Regions from separate parts of the Homo sapiens genome. Here region 1 is linked to region 2. The links come from fine-mapping of genetic effects on gene expression. A gene starts in region 2. The other region holds a variant in brackets. All regions are shown on one strand. Distances are between the middles of the regions.

The links. PIP is the estimated chance that this variant, and not a neighbour inherited with it, causes the effect.
Region 1: its variant is the best candidate, but not a certain one, in a credible set for the expression of FBLN7 in whole blood (INTERVAL, PIP 0.74).

Annotation. Positions count from the first base shown.
Region 1 is chr2:112,068,450-112,073,689 of GRCh38, forward strand. All of the region lies in intron 4 of TMEM87B (transmembrane protein 87B), which reads left to right. Among named protein-coding and RNA genes, the nearest start is that of TMEM87B, 16 kb to the left of the region's middle. The variant G/A (reference allele first, on the strand shown) is at 2,273.
Region 2 is chr2:112,135,032-112,140,509 of GRCh38, forward strand. It overlaps FBLN7 (fibulin 7), which reads left to right and starts at 3,354. Exons shown (of 8, transcript NM_153214.3): 1 at 3,354-3,699. The coding sequence starts at 3,625. RefSeq lists an enhancer at 5,171-5,478.

The DNA of each region.
Region 1 (5,240 bases), 67 kb before region 2:
ATCTCAGCACTTTGGGAGGCCAAGGCGGGTGGATCATGAGGTCAGGAGATCGAGACCATCCTGGCTAACACAGTGAAACCTCGTCTCTACTAAAAATACAAAAAATTAGCCGAGCGTGGTGGCGGGCACCTGTAGTCCCAGCTACTTGGGAGGCTGAGGCAGGAGAATGGCGTGAACTCGGGAGGTGGAGCTTGCAGTGAGCCGAGATCATGCCGCTGCACTCCAGCCTGGGCAACAGAGTGAGACTCCGTCTCAAAAAAAACAGACAACAAAACTGAGCACAACCATGTAGACCCTGATGAATTATAGAACATTTTAGCACCTAGAACCCCCTTTTACTTCCTAACACTTTCCCTGCCAATGGCAACACTATCCTCATTAAGGAGAAGGTTTTATTTTTATTTTTTAACTTTTATTTTCAGGGGTACATGTGCAGGTTTGTTATATCGTAAACTCATGTAGGCCGGGCGCGGTGGCTCATGCCTGTAATCCCAGCACTTTGGGAGGCCGAGGCGGGTGGATCTTGAGGTCAGGAGATCGAGACCATCCTGGCTAACAAGGTGAAACCCCGTCTCTACTAAAAATACAAAAAATTAGCCGGGCGCGGTGGCGGGCGCCTGTAGTCCCAGCTACTCGGGAGGCTGAGGCAGGAGAATGGCGTGAACCCGGGAAGCGGAGCTTGCAGTGAGCCGAGATTGCGCCACTGCAGTCCGCAGTCTGGCCTGGGCGACAGAGCGAGACTCCGTCTCAAAAAAAAAAAAAAAAAAAAAAACTCATGTCACAGGAATTTGTTGTACGAATTATTTCCATGACACAGGTACTAAGTTTAGTACCCAATAGTCATTTTTTCTGCTCCTCTACCTCCTCCCAGCCTTCACCCTTAAGTAGGCCCCTCTTTGTGTCTGCTGTTCCCCTCTTTGTGTCCATTTTCTCATCATTTAGCTCCCACTTATAAGTGAGAACATGCGGTATTTGGTTTTCTGTTCCTGTGTTAGTTTGCTAAGGAAAATGGCTTCCAGCTCCATCCATGTCCCTGCAAAGGACACGATCTCCTTTTTTATGTCTGCATATTATTCCATGATGTATATGTACCACATTTTCTTTATCCAGTCTACCATTGATGGGAATTTAGGTTGATTCCATATCTTTGGCAACGTGAATGGTGCTGCAGTGAACATATGTGTGCATGTGTCTTTATGACAGAACGATTTATATCCCTTTGGGTATATAATATACCCAGTAATGGAAGTACTGTGTCAAACGGTAGTTCTCTTTTCAGCTCTTTGAGGAATTGCCACACCGCTTTCCACAATGGGTGAACCAATTTGTACTCCCACCAGCAGTGTATAAGCATTCCCTTTTCTCCACAACCTTGCCAGCATCTGTTATTTTTTGACTTTTTAATAATAGCCATTCTGACTGGTGTGAGATGGTATCTCATTGTGGTTTTGATTTGCATCTCTCTGATGATCAGTGATATTGAGCTTTTTAAAATATGCTTGTTGGCCATATGCATGTCTTCCTTTGAAAAATGTCTAGTCATGTCCTTTGCCCTCTTTTTAATTTTTTTTTGTTTTTTTTCTTGTAAATTTGTTTAAGTTCCTTATAGACACTGGACATTAGACCTTTGTCAGATGCATAGCTTGCAAATATTTTCTCTCATTCTGTAGGTTATCTTTTTATTCTGTTGATAGTTTCTTTTGCTGTGCAGAAACTCTTTAGTTTAATTAGATCCTATTTGTCAATTTTTGCTTTTGTTGCAATTGCTTTTTTGGCAACTTTGTCATGAAATCGTCACCTGTCCTATGTCCAGAATGGTATGGTCTAGGTTGTCTTCATAGGGTTTTCATAGTTTTAAGTTTTACATTTAACTCTTTAATCCATCTTGAGTTGATTTTTGTATATAATGTAAGCAAAGGGTCCAGTTTCAGTCTTCTGCATATGGCTAGCCAGTTATCCCAGCACCATTTATTGAATAGGGAGTCTTTTCCCCATTGTTTGTTTTTGTCAACTTTATTAAAGACCAAATTATTATACGTGTGCTCCGATATTTCTGGGCTCTCTATTCTGTTCCACTGGTCTATGTGTCTGTTTTTGTACCAGTACCATGCTGTTTTGGTTACTATAGCCCTGTGGTATAGTTTGAAGTCAGGTAGCATGATGCCTCCAGCTTTGTTCCTTTTGGTTAGGATTGCCTTGGCTATTCGGGCTCTCTTCTGGTTCCATATGAATTTTAAAATAGTTTTTTCTAGTTTTGTGAAGAATGTCATTG[G/A]TAGTTTGATAGGAATAGCATTGAATCTGTAAGTTGCTTTGGGCAGCAGGGCCATTTTAACAGTATTAATTCTTCATATCCATGAGCATGGAACATCTTTTTTTTTTTTCTTTTTTTTGAGATGGAGTCTTGCTCTGTCACCCAGGCTGGAGTGTAGTGGCGCAGTCTCCACTCACTGCAACCTCCACCTCCCGGGTTCATGCCATTCTCCTGCCTCAGCCTCCCAAGTAGCTGGGACTACAGACGCCCGCCACCATGCCCGGCTAATTTTTTGTATTTTTTTTTAGTAGAGATGGGGTTTCACTGTGTTAGCCAGGATGGTCTTGATCTCCTGACTTCATGATCCACCCGCCTCGGCCTCCAAAGTGCTGGGATTACAGGCATGAGCCACTGCGCCCGGCTGAGCATGGAACATCTTTCCATTTGTTTGTGTCATCTCTGATTTCTTTGAGCAGTGTTTTGTAATTCTCATTGTAGAGTTCATTCACCCCCTTGGTTAGCTGTATTCCTATGGGATTGCATTCATGATTTGGCTCTTGGCTTGGCTGTTGTTGGTGTACAGGTATGCTAGTGATTCCCCCCCCGCCCCCCCGCCGCCGCCACCACTGCCCACTCTGTCATCCAGGCTGGAGTGCAATGGCGCAGTCTCTGCTCACTGCAACCTCCGCCTCCTAGGTTCAAGCAATTCTCCTGCCTCAGCCTCCTGAGTAGCTGGGATTACAGGCACCTGTGACCATGCCCGGCTAATTTTTGAATTTTTTTTTTAGTAGAGACGGGGTTTCACCATGTTGGCCAGGCTGCTCTCAAACTCCTGACCTTAAGTGATCCTGCTGCCTTGGCCTCCCAAAGTGCTGGGATTACAGGAGTGAGCCACCACGCCCAGCCGCTAGTGATCTTTATATATTGATTTTGTATCCCAAAACTTTGCTGAAGTTGCTTATCAGCTCAAGGAGCTTTTGGGCAGAGAGTATGGGGTTTTCTAGATATATAATCATGTCGTCTGCACACAGGGATAGTTTGACTTCTTCTCTTCCTATTTGGGTGCCCTTTATTTCTTTCTCTTACTTGATTGCTCTGGCCAGGACTTCCAATACCATGTTAAATAGGAGTGATGAGAGAGGGCATTTTTGTCTTGTGCCGGATGTCAAGGGTAATGCTTCCAGCTTTTGCCCATTAAGTATGATGTTGGCTATGAGTTTGTCATAGGTGGCTCTTATTATTTTGAGATCTGTTCCCTCAATACCTAGTTTATTAGAGTTTTTAACATGAAAGGATGTTGTATTTTATCCAAAGCCTTTTCTGTATCTATTGAGATGATCATGTGGTTTCTGTCTTTAATTCTCTTTATGTAATAAATCATGTTTATTGATTTGCATGTGTTGAGCCTACCTTGCATCCCAGGGGAAAGCCTGCTTGATCATGGTAGATTAACTTTTTGATGTGCTGCTGGATTTGGTTTGCTAGTATTTTGTTGAGGTTTTTTGCATCAGTGTTCATCAAAGATATTGGCCTGAAGCCTTCTTTTGTCATGTCTCTTCTATGTTTTGGTATCAGAATAATGCTGGCCTTATAGAATGAGTTGGGGAGGAGTCCCTCCTCCTCAATTTTTTGGAATAGTTTCAGTAGGAATGGTACCAGCTCTTCTTTGTACTTCTAGTAGAATTTAGCTGTGAATCCATCTGGTCTTCGGCCTTTTTTTGGTTGGTAGGCTATTTCCATTTCAGAGTTTCTTATTGGTCTGTTCAGGGAATCAGTTTCTTCCTGGTTTAGTCTTGGGAGGGTGTATGTGTCCAGTAATTTATCCATTTATTCTAAATTTTCTAGTTTGTGTGCATAGAGGCATTGATAGTATTTTCTGATGGTTACCTGTATTTCTGTGGGCTCAGTGGTAACATTCCGTTTGTCATTTCTAATTAAGTTTATTGGATCCTCTGTCTTTTCTTCTTTATTAACCTACCTAGCAGTCTATCTGATTAATTTTCTCAAAAAAACAGCTTCTGGATTCATTGGTCTTTTGAATGGTTTTTCATGTCTCGGTCCCCTTTAGTTCAGCTCTGATTTTGGTTATTTCTTGTCTTCTGCCAGCTTTGAGGTTGGTTTGCTCTTGCTTCACTAGTTCTTTGAGTTGTGATGTTAGGTTGTTAATTAATTTGAGATCTTTTTAACTCTTCTTCTTTTTTTTTTTTTTTTTTTTTTGAGACAGAGTCTCATTCTGTTGCCCAGGCTGGAGGGCAGTGGTGCAATCTCGGCTCACTGCAACCTCCACCTCCCAGGTTCAAGTGATTCTCCCACCTCAGCCTCCCGAGTAGCTGGGATTGCAGGCACCCACCACCACACCCAGCTAACTTTTGTATTTTTAGTAGAGATGAGGTTTCGCCATGTTGGCCAGGCTGGTCTCGAACTCGTGACCTCAGATGATCCACCCGCCTCAGCCTCCCAAAGTACTGGGATTACAGGATTACAGGTGTGAGCTACCGCACCCAGCCAAGATCTTTTTAACTTTTCACTGTGGGCGTTTAGTGCTGTAAATTTCCCTCTTAATATTGCCTTAGCTATGTCGCAGAGATTCTGGTATGTTGTATCTTTGTTCTCATTAGTTTCAGAGAACTTCTTGATTTCTGCCTTAATTTCATTATTCACCCAAAAGTCATTCAGGAGCAGGTTGTTTAATATCCATGCAATTGTACGGTTTCGAAAGATTTTCTTAATCTTGATTTCCAATTTTATTGTTGTGGTCTGAGAGAGTGGTTGGTATGATTTTGGTTCTTTTGCGTTTTCTGAGCATTGTTTTATTTCTCATTGGCTGATTTTAGAGTATGTGCCATGCAGAGATGAGAAGAGTGTATATTCTATTATTTTTGGGTGAAGAGTTCTGTAGATGTCTATCAGCTCCATTTGATCCAGTGTTGAGTTCAGGTCCTGAATATCTTTGTTAATTTTATGCCTCAGTGATCTAATACTTTCAGTC
Region 2 (5,478 bases):
CCACACTCGGCTAATTTTTGTACTTTTAGTAGAGACAGGGTTTCATCATCTTGGCCAGGCTGGTCTCAAACTCCTGACCTCAAGTGATCCGCCTGTTTCAGCTCCCAAAGTGCTGAGATTACAGGCATGAACCACCGCACCTGGCCTCTGTTGGGGTCTTAAAGACAAATTTCTGCAACAAATCTTCCCATTTTGTGTTGCATGCCTATGTTACACAGAGAACCTGAATGTATCAGAGCACTAATCCAAGGAGATGGCAACTGATCTTACCAAAAGATGTTTAAAATACTTTCTGTAGACATGTTGAACCCCACCAAACCAATCCCCCGACACTCAGGAATATTCTCTTGAAAACTAAATAGAGGGGAAATAGAGGAATAAACTAGCTGATAAGGGCCAGGCATGGTGGCTCATGGCTGTAATCCCAGCACTTTGGGAGGCTGAGACGGGTGGATCACGAGGTCAGGAGTTCAAGACCAGCCTGGCCAAGATGGTGAAACCCCGTCTCTACTAAAAATACAAAAATCAGCTGGGCATGGTGGCAGGTGCCTGTAATCCCAGCTACTTGAGAGGCTGAGGCAGGAGAATAGATTGCCTCTGTGAGGCAGCAGAGGTTACAGTGAGCTGAGATCATGCCACTGCACTCCAGCCTGGGCAATAGAGTGAGACTGTCTCAAAAAAAAAAAAAAAAAAGGCTGATAGGCCCATTGTATTCAGTTAAAGGTGAGGGTTGGGGGCTTAAAGGTAGAGCACCCAGCTGATTTTCATGGGCTGTCTGCTTGTAGACAGCCTTGGTAGGTTCTGGACTTGATAGGCTCTGCCTTGATTACTGCAGATCCAGGGCAGCTGAGGACAAAGACAGAGAAAGGACAGTGCTGCTGGGGCAGTCAGATCTTAGAAGGTTCATTCAGACCAGATGCCAGAACACTTAGAGGGAAGGCAGCCATAGGGAAAGGGTTACAAATATAAATAATTACATAGGAAAAAAAATCCTGTTGAAACTTAGAAATATTTGAAAAGTAAAAACAAAAGCAAAAACCCAAGAAAACAAAAAACAACAACAACAAAAAAACAGAAAACCCCCCATTACTGTAAATAAAATTCCTGAAATGCTATGATCATGTATTTAATATAAGCAACATAGTAGCCCTAAAATGAGAGGTGGGATAAAGTCAAAGGTAGTCTGTCCTAGAAACAGCACCGCTCTGGGAGGGGGATCTTGAGACCAGAGTTTGCATTCCTTGGGCAAGTCAGTCAACCATGCCCCGATTCAGCTTCTTCATCTGTGAAATCAAGAATCTCTTCCAGCTTTATGACTCCACAGAAAGGGCAGGAGAAGAGAAAAGAAGGCTTGCTTACATCTGCCCGATGTCTGGTTACCAGCGCATAGCCAGAACAAGGCTGAGAGCCAGAACAGCTGGCCTTCCAGAGAAGGTCGCCATGTAAACACAAGGTGGGATAGGACACAAAATATTAATAAATGCAGCCACACTGACCAGGAGGAAGCTTTTCAAGGATAGGGCAGAGGACAGAGAGACAGAGAGGGAGCAGGGCACTGGCTTTTGGTACAGACAGCAAACACATGAGAGATCGAGGCAGAAAACCACCATCTCCACAGGCTGCCCTGGATCGGGCCATGCTGTCCCGTCCTCTCCACCTGGATAGGGAGAAGCAGGGGTATGACCATGTCTCTCTTCAGGATGTTCAACCAGGAATGCAAAATAAAATTACATGGATCCCTTGCAGGCTGCAGTGGCTCACACCTATAATCCCAGCACTTTGGGAGGCTGAGGCGGGTGGGTCATTTGAGGTCAGGAGTTCAAGACAAGCCTGGCCAACATGGTGAAAACCTGTCTCTACTAAAAATACAAAAATTAGCTAGGCGTGGTGGTGCATGCCTGTAGCCCCAGCTGCTTGGGAGGCTGAGGCAGGAGAATTACTTGAACCAGGGAGGCAAGGCTGCAGTGAGCTGAGATCAGGCCACTGCACTCCAGCCTAGGCAACAGAGCAAGACGCCGTCTCAAAGAAAAAAAAGATTTACATGGGTCCCGTTCCACCTCCTTTGCATGGGAAGGTTGGGGGAGCAGCACTGTAGGATTTCCTGGGCAACCAATGCCCAGGAGGCCAGCCTAAACCATGTCCCCTGCTTTTTGGGGCACTGGCTAGGTTCTGAATGTTGGTGTCTCCCCTAAATTTATATGTTGGAAACCTCATTCCCAAGATGATGGCATTAGGAGGTGGGACCTTTGGGAGGTGACTAGGTCATGAGTGCAGAGCCCTCAAAATTGGGATTAGTGCCCTCAGAAAAGAGGCCCCAGAGAGCTGCCTTTCCCCTGTGAGGACACGGGAACCAGAACTCTGGCCCTCGCCAAACACCTAATCTATTGACACCTTGATCTTGGACCTCCCAGTCTCCAGAACTGTGAGAAACACGTTCTATTGTTTATAAGCCACTCAGTTTATGGTATTTTGCTATAGCAGTTTGAAGGGACTAAGCCAGGACTCCAGCTTTCCTTTCTGGCCTCTGCTGGGAAACAGCTCCTGCTCTGTGGTCACAGTCTTGTGGGCTCCCCGTTCCCTGAGCTCTGAGTGGGCTCAACAAAGTGAAATGTGGAAGAGGAAAAAGAGATCTGGGGCTTGACCAGACTTGTGTGTCCCAGGACATCTGCAGTGACTGCCTTCAGAAAACCTTCCAGGAAGAACGTCAGTCATGCCTTCCGGGAGCTCAGGTCTGAGGCATCTGGTTGTACCACAGCCCTGATGGCAGGGGACTTCAGACTGCTCATGCCGGCCTGGCACTTCCTGATTCGACTTCAGCAAGGCAGGCAATGTTCTAGAACCTGACCTCCGATTTAAACTGAGTTTCTCCTTCCCTTGAGCAAGGAGGACAGTGAATCAGAAGGACGTAGATCCCCTCACTGTATCACTGTGTGTGTATCTACTCACTGTGCGTGCGTGTTCTCACGGCCCCATTGCATTATTTAAAGGGACACTAGTTTATTCGGATGGAGAGCTCAGTCCACCCCACGTCAAGCTTATGAAGCCCATTTCCTGGCCCCCTTCTAGGAATGTCGGGAGGAGGGTGTCGCGTGGGCTTTGAAGTAGGACAGACCTGGGTTTGGGTTTCTGTTCTGCCACTTGTCCTTGGTGACTGAGCCTCAGTCTACTTGGTTGGGAAATAGGACGGTCGGGAGTGAACCCGCCCAGGGTGGGCTTCCAGTCACCCGCACATATGCGGGGCACTGGCCGCCCATCCCTGCCAGGCCCCGAGGATGCCCGCGCTCGTCCTCGGCGTCGCGGGTTGGGCGCGCTCCCGGGCGCATTCCCGGCCGGGCAGCCCCTCCTCCCTCGTCCTTAGCCCAGGGGCCGGCGCCTCCCCGCCTCGCGCGGACTGTCTCGTGCGGGCAGCTGCGGGCGCACCTGGACCCTCGCAAGGCCCGGGCGGCGCCGATCCCCGCGGGACGCGCTGCGCTCGGGGCCTCCCGCCTCCCCCCCTGCCCCAGCCGCCCCCCGGCCGCGCGGCGCCCCGCACCCTGCAGGGACGGCTGCCGCATCGCTGGGACAAACTCGGCAGCGGAGGCAAAGTTATTTCCCCTCCCAGGCAGCGGGATTCCGACTGGCAAGATGGTGCCCAGCTCTCCGCGCGCGCTCTTCCTTCTGCTCCTGATCCTCGCCTGCCCCGAGCCGCGGGCTTCCCAGGTCAGTGTCCCTCCCGCCTCTCTCCAGGCCAGTGTCCCTCCCGCCTCTCTCCAGGCCAGTGTCCCTCCCGCCTCTCTCCAGGCCAGCGTCCCTCCCGCCTCTCTCCCCTGTCCCTCCCGCCTCTCTCCCCTGTCCCTCCCGCCTCTCTCCAGGTCAGTGTCCCTCCCGCCTCTGTCCCCTGTCCCGCGCGCCTCTCTCCACGCCAGTGTCCCTCCCGCCTCTCTCCAGGCCAGCGTCCCTCCCGCCTCTCTCCAGGCCAGCGTCCCTCCCGCCTCTCTCCAGGTCAGCGTCCCTCCCGCCTCTCTCCAGGCCAGCGTCCCTCCCGCCTCTCTCCAGGTCAGCGTCCCTCCCGCCTCTCTCCAGGCCAGTGTCCCTCCCGCCTCTCTCCAGGCCAGCCAGTGTCCCTCCCGCCTCTCTCCACGCCAGTGTCCCTCCCGCCTCTCTCCAGGCCAGTGTCCCTCCCGCCTCTCTCCAGGCCAGTGTCCTTCACGCCTCTCTCCAGGTCAGTGTCCCTCCCGCCTCTCTCCAGGCCAGCGTCCCTCCCGCCTCTCTCCAGGTCAGCGTCCCTCCCGCCTCTCTCCAGGCCAGCGTCCCTCCCGCCTCTCTCCACGCCAGTGTCCCTCCCGCCTCTCTCCAGGTCAGTGTCCCTCCCGCCTCTCTCCAGGCCAGTGTCCCTCCCGCCTCTCTCCAGGCCAGTGTCCCTCACGCCTCTCTCCAGGTCAGTGTCCCTCCCGCCTCTCTCCAGGCTAGTGTCCCTCCCGCCTCTCTCCAGGCCAGCGTCCCTCCCGCCTCTCTCCAGGTCAGCGTCCCTCCCGCCTCTCTCCAGGCCAGCGTCCCTCCCGCCTCTCTCCACGCCAGTGTCCCTCCCGCCTCTCTCCAGGCTAGTGTCCCTCCCGCCTCTCTCCAGGCCAGCGTCCCTCCCGCCTCTCTCCAGGTCAGCGTCCCTCCCGCCTCTCTCCAGGCCAGCGTCCCTCCCGCCTCTCTCCACGCCAGTGTCCCTCCCGCCTCTCTCCAGGTCAGTGTCCCTCCCGCCTCTCTCCACGCCAGTGTCCCTCCCGCCTCTCTCCAGGCCAGTGTCCCTCCCGCCTCTCTCCAGGCCAGTGTCCCTCCCGCCTCTCTCCACGCCAGTGTCCCTCCCGCCTCTCTCCAGGCCAGTGTCCCTCCCGCCTCTCTCCCCTGTCCCGCGCGCCTCTCTCCATGCCAGTGTCCCTCCCGCCTCTCTCCACGCCAGTGTCCCTCCCGCCTCTCTCCAGGCCAGCGTCCCTCCCGCCTCTCTCCAGGTCAGCGTCCCTCCCGCCTCTCTCCAGGCCAGCGTCCCTCCCGCCTCTCTCCACGCCAGCGTCCCTCCCGCCTCTCTCCACGCCAGCGTCCCTCCCGCCTCTCTCCACGCCAGTGTCCCTCCCGCCTCTCTCCACGCCAGTGTCCCTCCCGCCTCTCTCCAGGCCAGCGTCCCTCCCGCCTCTCTCCAGGCCAGTGTCCCTCCCGCCTCTCTCCCCTGTCCCGCGCGCCTCTCTCCACGCCAGTGTCCCTCCCGCCTCTCTCCAGGTCAGTGTCCCTCCCGCCTCTCTCCAGGTCAGTGTCCCTCCTGCCTCTCTCCAGGCCAGCATCCCTCCTTCCTCTCTCCCCTGTCCCGCGCGCAGGGGAGGCAGCACCAAGGCTGGGGGACCCGGGCTTGCCACTTTCCACTCGGATGCCTGGGTTGAGAGCTCGGAGCGATGCCTGGGCTGGGGTTCAGTTTTCAGAGAGAGGTGCAGGGTCCCCCACCTGTCACCTCAGATG